Linked DNA regions of Homo sapiens. The protein of the gene in region 1 purifies or fractionates together with the protein of each later gene. This does not show direct contact. Each region holds a gene or a part of one and is shown in the gene's direction. Other genes may lie near its edges.

Region 1 (2,672 bases):
CATCATCTGATCACACTCACTATGACCTGTATGGACACGGGCTTTCTTTATTCTGGTCACTGTGGTAGCCCCAGTGATCAACACATAGCCAGGCTTCATAAATGTTGTTGAAAGGATGAATCTCATGCTTTTCTTAATTTCTGTTTTTATATCTACTTATTTTCTATAGGATATATTGGATGTATTAATTTCCTACGAATGCCAGTACAGAGAAATCACAAACAGGTTACCTAAAACAATAGAAATTTATTCTCTCATAGTTTTGGAGTCTAGAAATCTGAAATCAAGTTGTCAGCAGGGTTGGACACTTCTGAGGGCTCTAAGAGGATGAATCTGTCCCATTCCTCTCTCCCAGGTTCCTGTTATAACTAACAGTTTTTGGCATTTCTTGATTTGTAGATGCACCACTCCAATCCCTGCCTCCCCTATCACATGGTATCCTCAGTGTCTCAGTCTTCACATGGCCACCCACTTATCAGAACATGAGTCATATTGAATTAGAGAGACCCACTCTGCTCCAACTTGACCTCACCTTAACTAATTATACCCTTTATGTATTTCTAAACAAGCTCACTTGCTATCTTTTGGGGAAGAAACATAATTCAATGCATCACACTGGGCTATAGAAAAAAGAGCATATGTCTTAGATTTGTATAATTGAAAATCTTTTCAGTGAATCCACTTACTGTATAGAAAACTTACTATAAAGTATAGATAAAATACTTTAAACTGTAAAGTAATAGGTAAACATACACATTTTCTTAACTCTGGTAGGAAAAATGCCTACTATCATGTGAATAAAGGCACAAATTTATTGTCCATTTCTAGTATTGTGTTGGTCACATGGTGACTGAACCTGAATTTCTCTATCAATTTACCTGTAACAGGCTTCTGATGTTTTAGGAACTGTTTGCTTTGGAGACATATTCTTTTTGGAAAAACTCCATTGATCATGTAGTAGATATTGTTATTGTAATTTTTCAATGGAGAAAAAGAATGCTTAGAAGAAAAGTTAGGACAAGCTCCATAATTTTATAAGTGAGACACTGCTGAGAGAACATATTTCTTTATGATTCCATAATTCTTAAACTTTGAGTTTTATAATTCTGGCCATCCTGTATTGATCACCAAACTACAGAATTTACCATAATCACATGCTTTATAAGGCACTGGGTAAATGTTTATCAAATTAATGAACTGTTTTTGCGGTGCTAGGTAACAGGCATATTCATCATGGCATGGGAGAATCAGACCTTCAACTCTGACTTCCTCCTCCTGGGAATCTTCAATCATAGCCCCACCCACACCTTCCTCTTCTTTCTGGTCCTGGCCATCTTTTCAGTGGCCTTCATGGGAAACTCCATCATGGTTCTCCTCATCTACCTGGATACCCAGCTCCACACCCCCATGTACTTCCTCCTCAGCCAACTGTCCCTCATGGACCTCATGCTCATCTGCACCACTGTACCCAAGATGGCCTTCAACTACTTGTCTGGCAGCAAGTCCATTTCTATGGCTGGCTGTGCCACACAAATTTTCTTCTATATATCATTGCTTGGCTCCGAATGCTTTCTGTTGGCTGTTATGTCTTATGACCGCTACACTGCCATTTGCCACCCTCTAAGATACACCAATCTCATGAGACCCAAAATTTGTGGACTTATGACTGCCTTCTCCTGGATCCTGGGCTCTACAGATGGAATCATTGATGCTGTAGCGACATTTTCCTTCTCCTACTGTGGGTCTCGGGAAATAGCCCACTTCTGCTGTGACTTCCCTTCCCTACTAATCCTCTCATGCAATGACACATCAATATTTGAAGAGGTTATTTTCATCTGCTGTATAGTAATGCTTGTTTTCCCTGTTGCAATCATCATCACTTCCTATGCTCGAGTTATTCTGGCTGTCATTCACATGGGATCTGGAGAGGGACGTCGCAAAGCTTTTACTACTTGTTCCTCTCACCTCATGGTGGTGGGAATGTACTATGGAGCAGGTTTGTTCATGTGCATTCAGCCCACATCTCATCATTCTCCTATGCAGGACAAGATGGTGTCTGTATTCTACACCATCGTCACTCCCATGCTGAATCCTCTCATTTATAGCCTCCGCAACAAGGAAGTGACCAGAGCATTAATGAAAATCTTAGGAAAGGGCAAGTCTGGAGATTGAGTTACCTCATAAATTTCATGTTTTGCTGTCTGCTAACGTCTTCTTTTTATTGTCTCTCTTTTTCTATTAAGTCCTAAAAATATCACTAATTGTGTGCATTGCTCAACATATTGATGGGTACCAGTATAATTTATTTCAGATAAACTATTTTAGATTTTTTAATATTCAATTCAGTTATGACTACAATATAAGGCATTTTCAATAAAGACATTCCATTTTTATTTTTAAATTTCATTATCATTTTGGGAAACACATAGTGTTTGGTTACATTAATAAGTTCTTTAATGGTGATTTCTGAGATTTTAGTGCAGCGATCAACCAAGCAGTGTTCGCTGTACCTAATGTGTAGTCTTTTAGCCCTCTCCAGTCCCCAACATTTCTTCCAAGTCCCCAAGTCCAGTGTATCATTTTTATGCCTTGGTGTTTCATAGCTTAGCTGGCACATATGAGTGAGAATATACGATGTTTGGATTTCCATGCCTGTGTGACTTCACTTTGTA
Region 2 (3,500 bases), on another chromosome or scaffold:
CGGTTCTCTGTCCTTTAAAAATATATTTTAATATTCTGAGCAAAGAGATTAAGAATGTTACAAACACATCAACCGTGCGTATAGTAAGTCTTCCCTTCCTTTTAAAAATAGCACATTGCTTGCCTCTGATGGTACCATATATGATAGTCTGATGCTCAGAATGTTATGCATTTGTAGTAATACTTAGTTCCGACATGGCTGTTTCATACTAATTGTTTGCTAGATTTTAAAGATCTCTAAAGTTTCTTCAGTATTAAATTAATTTTTGTAAAATCAACAGGTTTATAATCCATTCTCATAATACAGGGATGGATAAATCATTCTTACTGTGTATATGTTATTTGTATGAGTGCAGATGTGTTATGTCAACTGCTATCCATCCTGACATTTTTAAACTTCAGAGCTATAGGAGACCTTAGACATTTGCCCTCCTCATTTTATGGGTTAGGAGTCCGATCCTGTAATGCACTGAGATTTCTCAGTTTCAGAGAAAAGTCTATCCTTTGGTCAAGGATATACTTTTTTTTTTTTTTTTTTAAAGGAAAAGCAGTACAATATTGGAATAGATGTTGCAAGTGTTGATGTGCAGTTCTCAAAGATAATATTAAACATTTTGTCATAGAATGCCCACATTTCGGCTCAGTGATATAAAGCTGAGGTTTTTTTTTTTTTCTTTTCCATTTTGCTAAATTACTGCTTGTATTAGCACAACATAATACAAAGTCTTAGTAATTTTATTACAGAATACCAAAGCAGCTGTTCTTTATGCTTTACGGAACATATTCATTCGAAAAGTGTGAAGCTAAAGAGTATTATGGTTGATCATGTTCTATATCACTATGGCAAAAATTTGAGGTAACTTAAATTTGGAAGAAATGAGTTAAAAGGATAGAAAGTTGTCAGAATCAGACAGCTAGTTCCTCTCTTTCTAGACCCACACAGTCTTCTTTGTTTCCAGAGATGTCTGCTGCATGTTTCTTACCACGCATTACCTTTCACTGTTTTGGCATGCTTGTGACCAAGTGTACATGCATTTATTCGTTAAATGTTTACTGAGGACCTGTTATGAGCCAGGCACTATTCTATGCATTTGGGCTAGGCAAGGAACAATATAGAGAAAATCCTTTCTTTCATAGAGCTTACATTATAGTTATTAGCTTAAGACAAAATAAACATGTAAATTATATGGCATAACTAGAAGGTTATAAACGCTGTGGAGAACAGTGAATTGGGAGGGAATAAGAAGTGCCAGGATATGAGGGCATGGGTTGCTTTTTTTTTTTTTTTTTTTGAGACGGAGTCTTGCTCTGTCACCCAGGCTGGAGTGCAGTGGCGCGATCTTGGCTCACTAGGGGTCGCAGTTTTAAATATAGCAGTAAAGGAAGGCCTCACTGAGAAGGAGCAAAGGAGAAGGAGTTAGCCATGCAGATACTCTGGGCAGAGCATTCCAGGCAGAGGGAACATAGCCTATGTGAAGTGTCTAAGATGGGAGCATGCCTAGAGTGTTCAATAAATCACCAGGAGAGCAGTGTAGCTGTAACGGAGTAAAAGAGTTGGAGAAGAGTAAGTATAATATGAGGTCAGAAAGATATGGAGCCAATGGGGAGAGAGCATGTAGGACTTCATTGACTTTTATAGTGAGATAGGGAGCTATGGGAGGGTTTTGAGCTGACGTGAGACATAAATTGTCTTGATATGCAGCCAGCTTTCTGTATTTGTGGGTTTCGCATCTGTGGATTCATCCAATGTCAGATGGAAAATACTTGGAAAAAAATAGATGATTACCTCTGTACTGAACATGTACAGCCTTTTTTTCTTGTCATTATTCCTCAAACAATACAGTATGATGACTACATAACATTTATGTTATAATTATTCTAAGTAATCTAGAGATAATTTAAAGTACAGTTGACTCTTGAACAACATGGGTTTTTGAACTACATGGGTCCACTTACACATGGATTTTTTTCTTCAATAAATATATTGAAAAAAATTTTGGAGATTTGCAGCAATTTGAAAAAACTTGCAGATGAACTGTGTAGTCTAGAAATAGTGAGAAAGTTAAAAAGTTATGTCATTAATGCATAAAATATATGTAGATACTAGTCTTTTACTCACTATCATAAAATATATACAAATCTGTCATGAAATGTTAAAATTTATCAAAACTTACACACACAAACATGTAATGGAGACTGTACATGGCACCATTCACAGTTGAGAGATGTAAAGAAACTTAAAGATACAGTATTAAATCATAACTGCATGAAATTAACCGTAGTGCATACTGTGCTACTGTAATAATTTTGTGGCCACCTTCCGTTGCTGTTGTTGTGAGCTCAAGTGTTGCTGTTGTTGGAGCTCATCTCTCCAGTAAATTGTATATGGTAAAAAGTATCTCTCTGGATTCTCTTGTATTTTTCATTGCATTTAGTGCAGTACCCTAAACTTTGAATAACATGATGGGATCCATATGAGGTGCCACTAAGTGATGCTGGAAGTGCTCCAGGAAGCTGAAAAAAGGCATGACATTATGAAGAAAAAGTCGAATTGCTTCATATGTGCCATAGATTGAGGTTTGTAGCTGTGGTTGCTGGCCATTTCAGAATGATTTATCTTGTAAACAGACAGGTATCAATAAATATGGTACAGTGCTGTAAATGTAATTTCCTTCTGATTTTCTTAATTTTTTTCTCTAGCTTTATTGTAAAAATAAAGTATATAATATAGAATACAGTATATAATATTACAATACATATTGTAAGAATGCAGCATATAATACAGTACGCAATACATATAATACAGTTTATGCATTCATGGCATAATTTTATTTTTTTTGCTCCTTCTAAGCTACACAGTTCATCTTTTTTTAAATTGTTGTGAATTTCCAAAAAATTCTCCAATATATTTATTGAAGAAAGAAATCCGCGTATAAGTGGACCCATGTAGTTCAAACTGTGATGTTCACAGATCTGTACTTTAAATAATCTCCTGAGTACTCATAATACCTAGTATAATGTAATACAAAGGCTGGGTGCGGTGGCTCACGCCTGTAATCCCAGCACTTTCGGAGGCGGTGGCAGGCAGATCACCTGAGGTCAGGAGTTCGAGACCAGCCTGGACAACATGGCGAAACCCTGTCTCTACTAAAAATAGAAAAAATTAGCTGGATGTGGTGGCGGGTGCCTGTAATCCCAGCTCCTTGGGAGGCTGAGACAGGAGAATGGCGTGAACGTGGGAGGCGGAGCTTGCAGTCAGCCGAGATCGCGCCACTGCACTCCAGCCTGGGCAACAGAGCAAGACTCCGTCTCAAAAAAAAAGTAGTACAATATGTGTATTAATCTACTGTTTATGTTGTATTATGTTATGGGAAGGCTTCTGGTCACCAGTAGGCTGTTAGTAGTTTTCCATTAGTAGTTTTTCGGGAGTCAAAAGTTGTATGTGTGTGTGTTTTTTTTTTTTTTTTTTTTTTGAGACAGAGTTTTGCTCTTTTTGCCCAG
Region 3 (3,500 bases), on another chromosome or scaffold:
TGTTTTAATTTCTTGCTTTTAATTTTTTTGCCTACCTCTTGTAGGCTTTTGATTTGAAATTACCAGGAAGCTTGCAGGTCATATCTTATAACCGATTATTTTAAACTGATGACAACTGATTCCACAAACGAGCAGAGAAAACTAATAAAAACTCTACACTTTATCCTCCTTGCTTTTTAACTTTTGTGAGTTTTGTACCTTCATGTAATTGCTTACTGCTCGTTAAGGTCCTTTTCTTTTAGATTGAAGAACTCACTTCGGCATTTCTTGTGGGAAAGTTTGGTGTTGATGAAGTCCCTCGGCTTTTGTTTGTCTGGGAAAGTCTTTATTTCTCCTTCATGTTTGAAGGATATTTTCACTGGATATACTATTGTAGCATAAAAGTTCTTTTCCTTCAGCACTTTCAGTGTGTCTTGCCCCTCTCTCCTGGCCTGTAAGATTTCCACTAAGTCTACTGCCAGACATACTAGAGCTCCATTGTTTGTTGTTTCCTTTCTCTTGTTGCTCTTAGGATCTTTTCTATATCCTTGACCTTTGGGAGTTTGATTATTAAATGGCTTGAACTAGTCTTGTTTGGATTAAATCAATCACCAATCCTTGCTTGGTGTTCTGTAGCTTTCTTGTGCTTGAATATTGATATCTTTCTCTAGATTTGGGAAGTTCTCTGTTATTTTTTCTTCAAATAAACTTTCTACCCTCATCTTTCTATCTCCTTTTAAAGGCCAAGAACTTAGATTTGCTCTTTTGAAATTATTTTCTAGATCTTGTAGGTGTGCCTCATTCTTGATTATTCTTTTTTCTTTTGTCTCCTCTGTGTATTTTCAAATAGCCTGTTTTCAAGCTTACTAATTCTTTCTTCTGCTTGATCAGTTCTACTGTTGAGATTCTGCCATGTTCTTCAGTAAGTTAATTGAATTTTTTATCTCCAGAATTTCTGCTTGATTCTTTTAAATTATTTCAGTTGTTTTGTTAAACTTACCTGATAGCATTCTGAGTTCCTTCTCTGTGTTGTCTTGAATTTTGTTGAGCTTCTCCAAAACAGCTATTTTGAATTCTCTGAAAGCTCACATCTCTGTTACTCTGGGATTGGTCACTGGTGCCTTATTTATTATTGTTAATTTAGTGAGTTCATGTTTTCCTGGATGGTTTTGATGACTGTGGATGTTCACCAATGTCTGGGCATTGATGAGTTAGGTATTTATTGTGGTCTTCGGAGTCTGGGCTTGTTTGTACCCATCTTTCTTGGGAACGCTTTTGAAGTATTCAAAGGGAAGTGAGTGTTGTGATCTAAGTCTTTGGTCATAGCAGCCGTATCTGTATTAAGGGGCACCCCAAGTCCAGTAACATTGTGACCCTTGCAGACTTGTAGAGGTACCGCCTTGGTGGTCTTGGGTAATATCTGGGAGAATTCCCTGGATTATCAGGAAAAGAACTCTTGGTTCTCTTCCCTTACTTTCCCCCAAACAGAGTCTGTCCTTCTTTGTTGAGCTGCCTGGAGCTGTGGGGGACGGGTGACACAGGTATGCCTGTGGCCACCATGACTGGCGTGTGCTGAGTCAGACCTGAAGCCAGTACAGCACTGGGTATTGGTGAAAGGCTTGTGGTGATGACTGCCTGGTCACCGCTGATGTTCCCTCAAGACTCAAGAGCTCTACAGTCAGCACAAATCCAGCCAGGCTTGTGCCCTTCCCTTGAGGGCAGTGAGCTCCTGGGGGCCCAGGACTGGTCCAGAAATGCTGTCTGGGAGCCAGGGCCTGGAGTTGGGAAACTTAGGAATCTACTTGGTGCTCTATTCTACTGCAGCTGAGCTGGCACCCAAACCTTAAGACATATTCCTTCCCACTCTTCCCTCTCCTTTCCTCAAGCAGAAGGAGCCTCTCCCCATGGCCACCAGTGCTCCAGGCCTGCAGTGAGTACTGCCTGGCTGCTGCTGGTGTTCACTCAAGGCTCCAGGGCTCTTCAGTCAGCTGGTGGTGAATGCTGCCAGACCTGGGTCTCTCCCTTCAGTACAATGGGCTCCCCTCTCACCCAGGACGGATCCAAAAATGCTGTCCAGGTGCCAAGACCTAGAATCAGGGACCCCAGGAACCCACTTGGTGCTCTGTCTCACTGGCCAAGCTGGTACCCAGGCTGACTTTTGGTTCTTATGAAGGTGCTTTCCTGTGTGGGAGGGGGATGATCGCCAGAGGACTTGCTTTGTATACCTGGATACCTGTAGATTCTTTTTATTTTCTTCATATTTTAAGGAGGCCTTACAAATGTATTGACATTATTGGACTTGTCATTAGGTTTGTATATGAGCTTCATGAGGGCAGAGGCCACACTCTTGTTATTACCATATCCCCAGTGCCTGGCCACCTATTAGGTACCCAACATTGATTCAAACAACTCTTGAATTTTTGCCTCAGCAAATTTTAATCATGATTTGTTTTCATGTATTTTCACATTTTTCTTATTATTAGCTTACATCAGTAATCTTTATACATTGAGTTATCCTTTTTGTTTTGTCTCAAGGGATGCTCTAAAATAAAATCTTCATTACCTCTCTTCATAGGTGTTCTTCTTTTGGGAGACGCATATAATATGAGGCATCCACTTACTGGTGGAGGAATGACTGTTGCTTTTAAAGATATAAAACTATGGAGAAAACTGCTAAAGGGTATCCCTGACCTTTATGATGATGCAGCTATTTTCGAGGTAAGATCAATTATTTTGACAAAAATGTCTCAAAATGGATTTATTTCTGGGGGTTAAGAGCAGTGGGGCTCTGATGGGGAGATCTGTACTAAGGAACCTGATGCTTTATAATAGCTCTTAGGCATCTTGCTTAGGCTTAAAGAACCTGACTTGCAACCTGTGAATCTTAGAGAATTTCTAAATTTGAATATTATGTAACACTTGATTGCTATGGGCCACTTAGCTCATAGTGGTTGTAAATTTAGCTTCAGTGTCATATAACCCATTGCTCTGAAGGTGATTTTTTATTTTTTTTGTAAATGATAAACATAAGGCAATATTACTTGCAGATAGTCCTTAGAAGGATAAGTATCAGTTTGAGGGGATTATAAACATCAGTTTGTGCTTTTTTATCCTTACCATATAATAAATGAGCTATTTCTTTTTTAGGCCAAAAAATCATTTTACTGGGCAAGAAAAACATCTCATTCCTTTGTCGTGAATATCCTTGCTCAGGCTCTTTATGAATTATTTTCTGCCACAGATGGTAAGTGTAGACACTTTTTAGTGAATATTACTCAATTGCAGATTTTTAGCGTAGGAAAGGAATAAACAAGTTAGTGATTTGTCCAGAAATAAAAATGTTACCTGAGTTTGCTAACTCCCAAGTTGGTAGTTTTTTAAAATTCCATTTTGAGCAATAGTTGTAGTTTTAGTTTTAGTTTGGAAGGTAGTGGAATTTCCTTAGACAACATTAATAGCAATGCCTCAGTAACATATTCATTATTTTGAATTCCTCTGGTGCAGACTAGATCATGCTTGTC
Region 4 (3,500 bases), on another chromosome or scaffold:
TGGCTTTCAGGTTGTTCACTATACAAGTGTGCTTGGCTAAGAAGGCAGAGCCCACAAGTGCTTTTTTTTTCTAATTCTACCAAAGAGACCATATAGGATACTGGGGAACTGATACCAGATTTGTAATTTTACAATGATTATTCAATCTTCAAATTTTATAGATCAAAGTCCAGAAATATTTTCCTATTTTAGACATATGGAGTATTTGCATATATGTTTTGAATTTTTGTAATTAATCTTCTAAATGCAGTATTCATAACTCATTTTTTATATTTAGGTATTTTTATTAAACTGAAATGAAGACAATTCATGCCATTTCCCCCTTTGATATCCAGGTTATTCAGCAAAGAAATGAAGAATGTGATCATACTCAATTTTTAATTGAAGAAAAAGAGTCAAAAGAAGAGGATTTTTATGAAGATCTTGACAGATTTGAAGAAAATGGTACCCAGGAATCACGCATCAGCCCATATACATTCTGCAAAGCTTTTCCTTTTCATATAATATTTGACCGGGACCTAGTGGTCACTCAGTGTGGCAATGCTATATACAGAGTTCTCCCCCAGGTAAAATGACAGCATACTTCCTTGGGGCCTGAGACAAAAGCCCATAGAAATACTATTGTTACAGGCAGCCATCCATTCATTTAACCCTCTGACTATGTATTAGGTAATATGCAGTTTATTGTAAGTTACACAAATTGTTTAATTGTGAACTAAGTGTATTTGAGCATACCACAACTTTCCCTAGGACAACTATTTTTTTATAATAATCACATACAGAAACAGTAGGAATGTTATGTAAGAATAGTATACTTGTTACAGTGAAAAAAAATGGGTAACTTTTTAGTAACAGTCACCTTTCACATGTTTATTTATTCACTGAATAAATATTCATTGGATATCTACCATCTGTAAATAGCTTTAAAAATCAACTATTGATGGTGTTAAGGGAAAAGGGGGGATTTTAAAAAGAACTAAAACACAAAATGATAGAGATGATGATGGATTCAGTAGAAAAAGCATCAAAGGAAGCAGTTGGGATGATGATGAGAAACTGCTGTTGACTTCTATGACAGATCCATTGGTAAAATCCTTTATGCTTACTCTTTTTTTCTTAAATACTAACTTTTGGAGTTGTATATGGCATACGTTTAGAGATACTTTTTGCTTGTAATTAAAGAGACTTGAAAATTCAGGATTAGCCCAGTTGGATCAGGTGAAATGGAAGCAGAGTAGTGTGCTGTCCTGGCTCTGGTATTGACTCTACCTGTCCCTTACTGTATGACCTTGAACTTATTACTTCACTTCTCTCAGCCTGTTTCTCTTTGTTCTGGCATGAGAATAGAAAGCATATGAAAAATACTTAGTTCATTGTAAGCAATCAATCAGTGTTACCTATTGTTTTCACTTTTAGCCCTCTAGATAAATATTAAGAGAGGGTTTGCTCATGTTTTTGGTATTTTAATTTCATTTCAAGCCATACACATTTAACATAACACTGTACATTTTAAAAGATAAATTTTCATTTTTTCTCCTTCTGAAAATGCATTGTAAATTTATGCTAGCTTACATTTGAATATTAGTCATCTGAATCCATATCAGATTTCATGTTCTTGTAACTATTTAATGTCCATTTAATCACTGAGTTGTATAGATTGAGATTTGAGTTGATAGTTCAGCTAAGTTTCCCTTGAATTATAATAATTATAATTTTCTAGTTTTAAATATAACTGAGCTGATTTAATCAAGCGATTAATATCAAAGTATAAAAACTATTTTAACTGATGTGATACTCTTTGCTCTCTATCTATATTTTAGCTCCAGCCTGGGAATTGCAGCCTTCTGTCTGTCTTCTCGCTGGTTCGTCCTCATATTGATATTAGTTTCCATGGGATCCTTTCTCACATCAATACTGTTTTTGTATTGAGAAGCAAGGTAATCAAGATATTATTTCATTAAATGTGAGAAAGGTATGTCACAAATTAGAAGTATTCAGGGGGGAAAATTATCACATTCTCTGAGAAAGTATAGAGAGATAAAACCCAGACCTCAAAGGAAGATCTATTTAAAAGGCAATAACATTGATTTTTGGTTTGCCTGAGGAGCAGTGGAACTCTATCAACTGATTAAAATTAACAGAGGTAAATTTTAGAGACTGTCTTTCTGAGACGGCCTTGTTTCACATCAAAAAACCAACATCTTTTACTCCCTGTACAGCTACAGTGCCTTATTTTAGAAATCAGAACTAAAAAGGATTTTTTTTTTTGGAACTTCACTCAAAACCACTTATTTATTCTTTCTTAAATTGTCTATTGTTCTTAGTAGCGTTTTTGTGGGTGAATAAAAGTGATGAAATATTCACACAGTTGATAATTTAGATAGTGCTGGGATCTCACGGTTTCTGTTCTTGGGATAGATACAGCAAAAGTCATTTTCCTAGAGTACCCATTGAATCCTTTCTGTATTTGGAACTGACTGTTTGCAGCTGCTCTATGAATACAGGGTGGGAGAATGGGGAGGCTTGGCTTATTCTTTGAGAGTCTGGTAATGTATGTTGGAACCATACCGGAAAATCAGGGGGATAAAAAAGATTCACAAAAGCTTGAAATAATTATGTGAAGAGTAGCACAGTTACTGTCCTGAATTCAGACGGGACAGTCACTTTTCTGCAGTGTTGCAAGGCAGCCACTAGGCTTATTACAGGCAGAACTCTGACAGAAGGCCCTCTCCTGTTCTAATGATGCACTTATTCTGCTTTGTGGTTTGGTGGGAAATGAGATATGCGTGTCCTTGTTGCTGAATTCTTAGGTAGGGAGAAAGGCATTCATTAATGGTTGTATCTTGCCTTTTCAAGGAAGGATTGTTGGATGTGGAGAAATTAGAATGTGAGGATGAACTGACTGGGACTGAGATCAGCTGCTTACGTCTCAAGGGTCAAATGATCTACTTACCTGAAGCAGATAGCATACTTTTTCTATGTTCACCAAGGTAATCATTTTTAGATTAATTATAGTGGCTATCAGTACCTATCTTTAGCTAACAAAGGAATGCCACAATATTTTATTCCATTAAATTTACATATTCTCTGAGGTGTAATTAGATTTTACAGCCCTTGTTGTGTATTACTTTATAACAAGGATAATCTTATTTAATATTTGCTAATAAACTCAGAAGAAATCACATACTCTATGTTATTTGCCATGTCTTAATACATTTGTGGAGTGTTTATGCCATTACGCCATGGGACAAATAATCTGCATTAAGCTAATTCTATAGTTTTGGACCTTCAAAATAGGCATTATGTAGAAAAGTGATTTTTTAAAGCAGCTAATAGGATGGCATAATAAATACATTGGTATATTTGACATCAAAAATTATCTTTTCTATAGTATGTTAGCAAAAAATCTAAAAGGTCTCTTTCTGGGTTTGAACTATTTTAAATTAAAAATATTTACCTACTCTAATCCAAATACACTGTTCCAAATATATTATTCAATT
Region 5 (3,500 bases), on another chromosome or scaffold:
AGGACAGAGATTTTCTTGTAGTCTAGTTCAAATCTGTGATTAAAGTTTTTCCCCCACATGTAATAAGATTGTACAAAATCATGTTTGTTTTTTTCATGAATAGAATGAGGAAATTTCTAAAGAATTGTTTAAATACATAAAAATGAAGTCTTATGTTTGTGAATGAACTTAAAGTTTACAGCATTATGATATCTGTGTATATATAACAGTGTAAATGGTATTTTATTTTACATTCAGTCACTAATAATTTTTCCTGTTTTAAAAATATGTATTTTTTAGTTTTATTTATATTTATTTATTTATTTTTGAGACAGAGTCTCACTCTTGTGTCCCAGGCTGGAGTGCAGTGGTGTGAGCTCAGTTCACTGCAACCTCCGCCTCCCAAGTTCGAGCGATTCTCCTGCCTGAGCCGCCCGAGTAGCTGGGACTATAGGCACATGCCACCACACCTGGCTAATTTTTGTATTTTTAGTAGAGATGGGGTTTCACCATGTTGGCCAGGCTGGTCTTGAACTCCTGACCTCAGGTGATCCTCCCGCCTCACCCTCCCAAAGTGCTGGTATTATAGGCACGAGCCACTGTGCCCGGACTGTATTTACTTAATTTTTTTTTTTTTTTTTTGTAGAGACAGGGATTTCACTGATTTGCCCAGGCTGATCTTAAACTCCTAGCCTCAAGCAATCCTCCTGCCTTGGCCTCCCAAAGAACTGGCATTACAGGCTTGAGCCATCACACCTGGCCTACTTTTTTTGCTTTTATTGATGAATTATTTTATGACTCATTTTTAAATTTACTGTAGGTCATGTTATCTCAGGGAAGTTGTAACTTACTTGATGGCTTCTGCAAATAAGGATGTTCTCATACTTAACCTCAGTAAACCCATTAAAATTGGAAAATTAACATTGTTATGTTACTAATATCAAATCTTTAGAGCTCATTTAAGTTTACAGCCTTTCTATTTGACTCTATTTTTTTATAGTTTCCATCTTTCTGCTGAAATTCCTAATCTGATTGTGCATGTATCCACCTTTTCCACTAGATCCTTTGCGTTTATTTATTTATTTTTATTTTTAGAGTCAGGGTCTCGCACTGTCACCCAGCCTGGAGTGCAGTGGCACGATCATAGCTCACTACAGCTTTCAACTTCTGGGCTCAAGCAATCATCCCACCTCAGCCTCCCAAGTAACTGAGACTACAGGCACATGCCACCATGCCCAATTAATTTTTTTACATTTTTGCAGAGGTGGGTCTTGCCATGTTGCCCAGGCTGATCTCTAACTCTTGGGCTCAAAAGTCCTACCATCTCAGTCTCCCAAAGTGTTGGGATTACAGGCGTGAGCCACTGCATTCCCCTTTAACTTAATCATAGTTATTTTATAGTTTCCATCTGATAGTTTCAACATTTGGGTGTGTTAATTGTTTTAGCTCTTGACAGTGGGTTTTTTTCTTGCTATTTTATGTCATATTTTTTATTGAATTCTGGCCATTGTTTGTAAAAGAATGACAACTGAGGTAAATAGTATTTATGACTGAGAATTGGGCTCATAAATAGGATTTATGACTAAGAATCTGTCAGGCCATTGGTGGTCGGTTGGAGGTGGATTCAATCTACTGAGTGAACTGGATTTGGCTTTTATTGCTGCGCTACAGCTACCTTCAGTTCAGCACAGACTTCAGACTCCTACTGTTATCTTGTGCATAGTGTAGGGCCTGAAGTAGAGGGATTTTTTGGTTGTTTCTGCTCCACCTTCAGTCCTGTATGCCTTTGCCACAGGAAGAGTCTCTTCACGCCCCTCCTGCGACCCCAGGAAAAGGTCGCCTTTGCTTATAACTCCACATGGGGGTACTTGGGGACTCCTCACACCCCTTGTTCATGCCCCTGCCCTCATTCCCCCTGGTGCTGGGGTATAGCACTCCTCAGTTTTCAGGTTTAGCTAAAATCTTATGGGGCTCTGTATTCCTGGGGCTTAGGGGTGAGGCTTTCTGTGTTCCTTTCCCTTTTCCCTGTGTTGGGGGTTTTGTGATGGAAGCAAATTTGCTGCCACTGCCCCCGTGGTAGATATCTGCTTTATGTCACTTAAGGACTCTGGGCCCCTTAGACTTTCCTGCCACCCACCCCCGCTGCCCAGTGGTAGATATTTTGCTTCTTCCCCTTCTCTAGAATAGTGGACTTTTGCCTGACACTGGGCTGGTGAGGGTGGAGGAGTGTGTGGGGCAGGGGAGTGGAGTTCTGCCCCTCCCAGCATTACATGCCTTTTGCATATACCCTTTTCTTAGAGGGAGTGAAAGGGTTTCCTGCCCCTTTCCCAGCGCCTGACAGGTTTTCTTCTATGAGATAAACTTCCAGGAAGTGAGTGGGGTTTTGTTCCCTGTACCATTAGCAGGGGCTCTCTTTACTCTCCAGCTTCACCCCTAATCTTTCTTGTGAGCACACACTGAGGTCTGTGGAGAAGAGTTAGAGAGTGACTATCTGGGGCTTCCAGAGATTCTACATTCAATACTAGCCTACCGTGGGACTTTAAGTATTTTGTAATATGTCACTTCTTCTTACCCTCTTTTATGGCATCTGCCTCTTCCTCCCATTCTCAGTTTTTGTCTTTCCTTAGAGGGGTTTATCACCCTTTGAAGTTCAGTTCGCCTGGTTGCCTTGTGACCTCTGTTCTCTGACATGCTTAAGAAAAAAAGATTTGTACTTCAGGCTTTTTCTCATCAGTAGGGTGGGAGTGATGTTCCCTTGTGGCTACAGAGTTTCTCTTACTAGTAATACTGTACAGTATTTTTAATGTTTTCAACCCCCTCCTCTAACAGTGAAACCTGGCTCCCGTTATTCTTACTATGTTGACTCATTTGATCAGTCCCCCTGTGTGTAACCCATCTCCCATCATTGCTGCCTTCCCCTACAACTCATGGATGCCCTGTCCCTGCTTGTGCCAGGCCACCACTCTGTACAGTGCCCTGTCCAGCTGCTCAGGCTGTGATGCCCTACACCAGGCCACCTGTCTCGGGCTCTGGCCCCTCCTGCCAGGCTGCTTGCTGGTTGTGGATGCCCCCATTTCACTCAGGCTCTGACTCCCAAGCTTCCGTGACCCTTGCCTCCTCTCTTCCCCCTCAGCAGCCCCCCAACCTGTGATAGGCTCTCTTCTGTGCAGTGCCCTCGTGACTCTGCTCTGGTTCTGACTCCCCACTCCGCACCACCTGTGTGAGTGCCTTCCTTAGTGTCTGGCGCCAACACTCCAGGCTACCTCTCCACACAGGTTGTCTGCTTCACTGTGGCCCACCTAATGGCTGTAGGACTGATTTGTTCAAGAAAGAAAGAGAAGAGGAAAGAGAGGGAAGAAGGGGGAAAGGGGAAGAGAACCAGGAAGACTAGTGTACTTTTGTGAGAAAAGACTGAGCTACCAACCATCCTTTACTGTAAACGAATTAATGAATATATTTTAAGTATTTGCATTTTGTCATTCAAACAGGTTATGAAGTTCATGGAATGGAAAAAATACCAG
Region 6 (3,936 bases), on another chromosome or scaffold:
ATAGAGAACTATGGTCAAGCCACTGCACTCCAGCCTGGGCAAAAGAGCAAGACCCTCTCTCTAAAAAAAAAATTTTTTTTAATGTTCACTGGTTTTGATGCGGGTAATAGCCTCCCGGCCAGTCTCCTCCTCGTTGATGCTGTCACTGCTGAAGATGCATTTTCTTATCACTTCACTCATCTGCTCAAAAATCTTCAGGAAGTCTTGACTTGCAGCATTAAAAGTTCAAATGCCTTGGCTGAACATTCCAGTCTTCTCCACTCTGCCCTTTTGCAATTTCATCACTGTCTTTGGTGAGGTACAAAGCGTGCCAGGTCAGAGTCAGAAGACATGAATTAAAGTCATGATTCTGTGACCAACCAGCTACGTGATCTTAGGCTAACTACGTCAGTGCACTGGGCCGGGGCTCCTTCCCGTTCCTAAGGAGGCGGGAGGCGTGTCGGGCAGACTGGATTGTCACAGGTCACTGCCATCTCTAACAAGCGGACTTCTGAGCCCCGTTGCGGCCACAAGTAGGACCATCTCCTGCATCCTCCTTACCCTTCTACTTCTAGGGACCACACGGCTTCTGTGGCCACTTCTTGCTGCTTCGCTTTTGCCTTCCTAAGTAGACTAGGCTTTAGAAGAGCTACAATACCAGCTCCTTTAAGGTCGACCTCCTCCCGGTCACAAGGCACTTGCCTCCCACTCTTCACTTGGGACAGTCCTCTTCACAGTCAGAATCCGCCACGTAGTAAGTGCCGCTTCCAACCAATCAAGAGGCAGTTAGCGCAGACCTTTGAGGGACATCCACTTCCACCAATGATCTTCAAGTCTTCTCCAGCGCCTCGCTTTGTGGGGCGAGGCCAACCACCGCGATGGCCAATCTGTTGTAGGAAAGGTATTCCGGGAACTGATGAGCGCACCAATCAGGTAAAAAGACGTCGGGGAAGGGCATTTCTCATTGGTAATTGCGTCCGGAAGAGGGACGGGCCTCGAACGACGAAATTACGATTTGATTGGTAGGTGCGATGTTGACCACCAGGGAAAGTCCACCTTCCCCAACAAGGCCAGCCTGGGAACATGGAGTGGCAGCGGCCGCAGCCAATGAGAGAGCAAACGCGCGGAAAGTTTGCTCAATGGGCGATGTCCGAGATAGGCTGTCACTCAGGTGGCAGCGGCAGAGGCCGGGCTGAGACGTGGCCAGGGGAACACGGCTGGCTGTCCAGGCCGTCGGGGCGGCAGTAGGGTCCCTAGCACGTCCTTGCCTTCTTGGGAGCTCCAAGCGGCGGGAGAGGCAGGCGTCAGTGGCTGCGCCTCCATGCCTGCGCGCGGGGCGGGACGCTGATGGAGCGCGCCATCAGCCCGGGGCTGCTGGTACGGGCGCTGCTGCTGCTGCTGCTGCTGCTGGGGCTCGCGGCAAGGACGGTGGCCGCGGGGCGCGCCCGTGGCCTCCCAGCGCCGACGGCGGAGGCGGCGTTCGGCCTCGGGGCGGCCGCTGCTCCCACCTCAGCGACGCGAGTACCGGCGGCGGGCGCCGTGGCTGCGGCCGAGGTGACTGTGGAGGACGCTGAGGCGCTGCCGGCAGCCGCGGGAGAGCAGGAGCCTCGGGGTCCGGAACCAGACGATGAGACAGAGTTGCGACCGCGCGGCAGGTGAGGGGCTGCCGACCCGGGGGAGGCAACTTGTTTACGCGCGCGAGCCGCGGAGGATGCGGTGTAGGGGGGCGGAGATCCGGGACCCGGGCGGGCGTCTTCCCTCGGCTGCGGAGGGCAGCTGGCGACCTGGGGACGAGCGCGGGGCCACGACGCCCTCCCATCCCCCGGCCAGCGACCTGCCTGGGCTCGGCTCCCGAGGGCCTGGTGCTGGCCGACGGGTCAGAGCAGCATCCTCGCAGGTGCGGGAGAATGGAATTCCAGGGTTGCAAAGAAACGCCACTTCCCCTCTTTCATTGTTTTCGGGCATTGATTCTCTTCCAAGGAACCTTTCCCTCTTTTTCCTTACGCACATCACCTCCTGTCTGTGCTGGCGTGACAGCTGTTTTGAGAAAGGACTTTAGCAAAAGACGTCTGCATTTTCTTTCAAACACAACTCTGTAGTGCCCCCGGACAAGGATTGAGATCAGTGTCTAATTGAGATCTGCGGAACACCTGCATCCGAATCACCTGGGGTTGCTGGTGAAATCTACAGTTTTCTAGGCCCTACCCCAGTTTTACTGAATGAGACATTCCCTGGGTAAGAGCCTGGCATCTGCGTGTTTAACAAGCACGCCGGATAATTCTTGCACGCTAAAGTTTAAGAGCTATAGTCAGATTCTTGAATATTGGTTCTTGAACCTAAGAGCCATGGTTAGGTTCTTGAATAAGGGGTTTACTGTATAAACATTTAATATAGGGTTTTCTTTGAGTTTCTCAGCATTCAAAAAATGTTACTTCAAGGTGATTGTTTTAAAGCACTTTTCAAAGTCTAGACACAATGTAAGGCATGTTAACAGTAAATTTGGGGGACAGCCAATCTTATCACACCCGTGGAGAAAGTGATGTCCCATTTTATAAATGGAGTGCTAAAGGGAGCATTAAGTAAATTAAACTAGGGAAGGCTGGGCTCTGGATTGGAACATATTTTAGACTTATAGTCATTACTAGATCGTAACAAGTTAGATTTAATTTTAAATTAATATTAGAACTTTGATCTATATATCTGGAGACTACTATAAATAGGATAAGTACTAAAATTCTCTAGGCACCATTTGAATATATAAACATTTGTAAATATATATATATAAAACAAAGTTTTCTTAGGTTTGCTAATGAGTCAGTTTTCCTGGAAGAGTGTTTTTGTTTATCATAAATTTCTGAAGCTCCTGCTCAAAATGAATTACATGAAGTAGAGTTGAGACGTTTTCTTTTTCTTAGAATTCAAATCCACTTCAACAGGTACTTACTGGTTAACAAGAGCCCAAGGATGCCCTGGGTGGCAGAGGTTAGGCAGGTAGTTCCTGCCTTCCAGGAGAGTGTGCAGTCTAACAGTACGGATGAAACGAGAAGACCTATAACAACATTACAGACTAGAAACAGTGCCAGTGTCAGGGATGTCCCAAGGTTTTTGTGGTGTTCTACTAGGTGAGGTATGGGAGTGAGGGTAGGTAAGAAGATAAGAGAAGGTTGTGGCAGAATGAGTTGGTTCCTGAAAAATGGGTAAAATTGTAATGGAAAGTCACTGGACTTGAGGAAACAGCAAGAGGCACAGAGGCCGGAGATTATGTTTGGAAAACATTTTGTCTCTGTGTATGTCTGTGTGTGTGTGTGTGTGTGTGTGTGTGTGTGTGTGTGTGTGTACGTAAGCGATATAGACATGCACATATGTATGCTAGGCAGGGAGAAGTAGATGAGGATAGAAAAAATAGGTTAGAGCCGACTGTATATGCATATAGTCTGATGCTAATAGCATCATTGTCACTTGGGAGTATGTTAAAACTCCGGAGTGGGGCACCACCCCACACTCCCTGAATGAGAGTATCTGCATTTTAACAAGATCACCGTGTGATTCACATGCACGTTAAAGTTTGAGAAATGTTGGGTAGAGTATCCTGAGTGCCAGGCTTGATCAAAATTACACCTAAGGAATGTTTCTCTAGCAATAGTGTGTACTGAAAACTTGAGTTAAGAATACCAAAAGGAGAGTGTTATAGCAGTTCAGATGAGAGGTTTAGTGTAAAGTGGTATAGGACAGAGGGGACAGAGTTGAGATATTTGATGCAAAATCTAGGTTCCTGGCAAGTGAATGCATTCTTCCTTTCTTGGTACCCTTGTCCAGAGATTGAGACTGCGTGGCCAGAAGTTGACAAAAGAGGTTTAAGGGAGCAGGGAAGAAAAGGTAAGGGGTTTGGTGTTGGACATGTGACTCGGAGGTGCAGGCAGGACATCCAGAGGGAGGTAGGCGGGTGGAAATGAGTGA

The links.
Region 2: the proteins of OR2M7 (region 1) and MARCHF6 purify together in Homo sapiens (affinity purification with mass spectrometry; one large-scale study listed by BioGRID and IntAct). This does not show direct contact.
Region 3: the proteins of OR2M7 (region 1) and SQLE purify together in Homo sapiens (affinity purification with mass spectrometry; one large-scale study listed by BioGRID and IntAct). This does not show direct contact.
Region 4: the proteins of OR2M7 (region 1) and GUCY1B1 purify together in Homo sapiens (affinity purification with mass spectrometry; one large-scale study listed by BioGRID and IntAct). This does not show direct contact.
Region 5: the proteins of OR2M7 (region 1) and TMEM68 purify together in Homo sapiens (affinity purification with mass spectrometry; one large-scale study listed by BioGRID and IntAct). This does not show direct contact.
Region 6: the proteins of OR2M7 (region 1) and EIF2AK3 purify together in Homo sapiens (affinity purification with mass spectrometry; one large-scale study listed by BioGRID and IntAct). This does not show direct contact.

Annotation. Positions count from the first base shown.
Region 1 is NC_000001.11:248,323,130-248,325,801, reverse strand, and holds OR2M7 (olfactory receptor 2M7), read left to right. Parts: upstream 1-1,233; coding exon 1,234-2,172; downstream 2,173-2,672. UniProt on the Homo sapiens protein: Odorant receptor.
Region 2 is NC_000005.10:10,356,695-10,360,194, forward strand, and holds part of MARCHF6 (E3 ubiquitin-protein ligase MARCHF6), read left to right. Parts: intron 1-3,500. UniProt on the Homo sapiens protein: Endoplasmic reticulum membrane-associated E3 ubiquitin ligase that plays a critical role in mitigating endoplasmic reticulum stress, the regulation of cholesterol and lipid homeostasis, and ferroptosis.
Region 3 is NC_000008.11:125,015,505-125,019,004, forward strand, and holds part of SQLE (squalene monooxygenase), read left to right. Parts: intron 1-2,554; coding exon 2,555-2,697; intron 2,698-3,126; coding exon 3,127-3,223; intron 3,224-3,500. UniProt on the Homo sapiens protein: Catalyzes the stereospecific oxidation of squalene to (S)-2,3-epoxysqualene, and is considered to be a rate-limiting enzyme in steroid biosynthesis.
Region 4 is NC_000004.12:155,793,521-155,797,020, forward strand, and holds part of GUCY1B1 (guanylate cyclase soluble subunit beta-1), read left to right. Parts: intron 1-335; coding exon 336-566; intron 567-1,820; coding exon 1,821-1,937; intron 1,938-2,856; coding exon 2,857-2,990; intron 2,991-3,500. UniProt on the Homo sapiens protein: Mediates responses to nitric oxide (NO) by catalyzing the biosynthesis of the signaling molecule cGMP.
Region 5 is NC_000008.11:55,756,379-55,759,878, reverse strand, and holds part of TMEM68 (DGAT1/2-independent enzyme synthesizing storage lipids), read left to right. Parts: intron 1-3,467; coding exon 3,468-3,500. UniProt on the Homo sapiens protein: Catalytic subunit of the alternative triglyceride biosynthesis pathway, which mediates formation of triacylglycerol from diacylglycerol and membrane phospholipids.
Region 6 is NC_000002.12:88,624,665-88,628,600, reverse strand, and holds the start of EIF2AK3 (eukaryotic translation initiation factor 2-alpha kinase 3 isoform 1 precursor), read left to right. Parts: upstream 1-1,136; 5' UTR 1,137-1,326; coding exon 1,327-1,634; intron 1,635-3,671; exon of another isoform or gene 3,672-3,855; intron 3,856-3,936. UniProt on the Homo sapiens protein: Metabolic-stress sensing protein kinase that phosphorylates the alpha subunit of eukaryotic translation initiation factor 2 (EIF2S1/eIF-2-alpha) in response to various stress, such as unfolded protein response (UPR).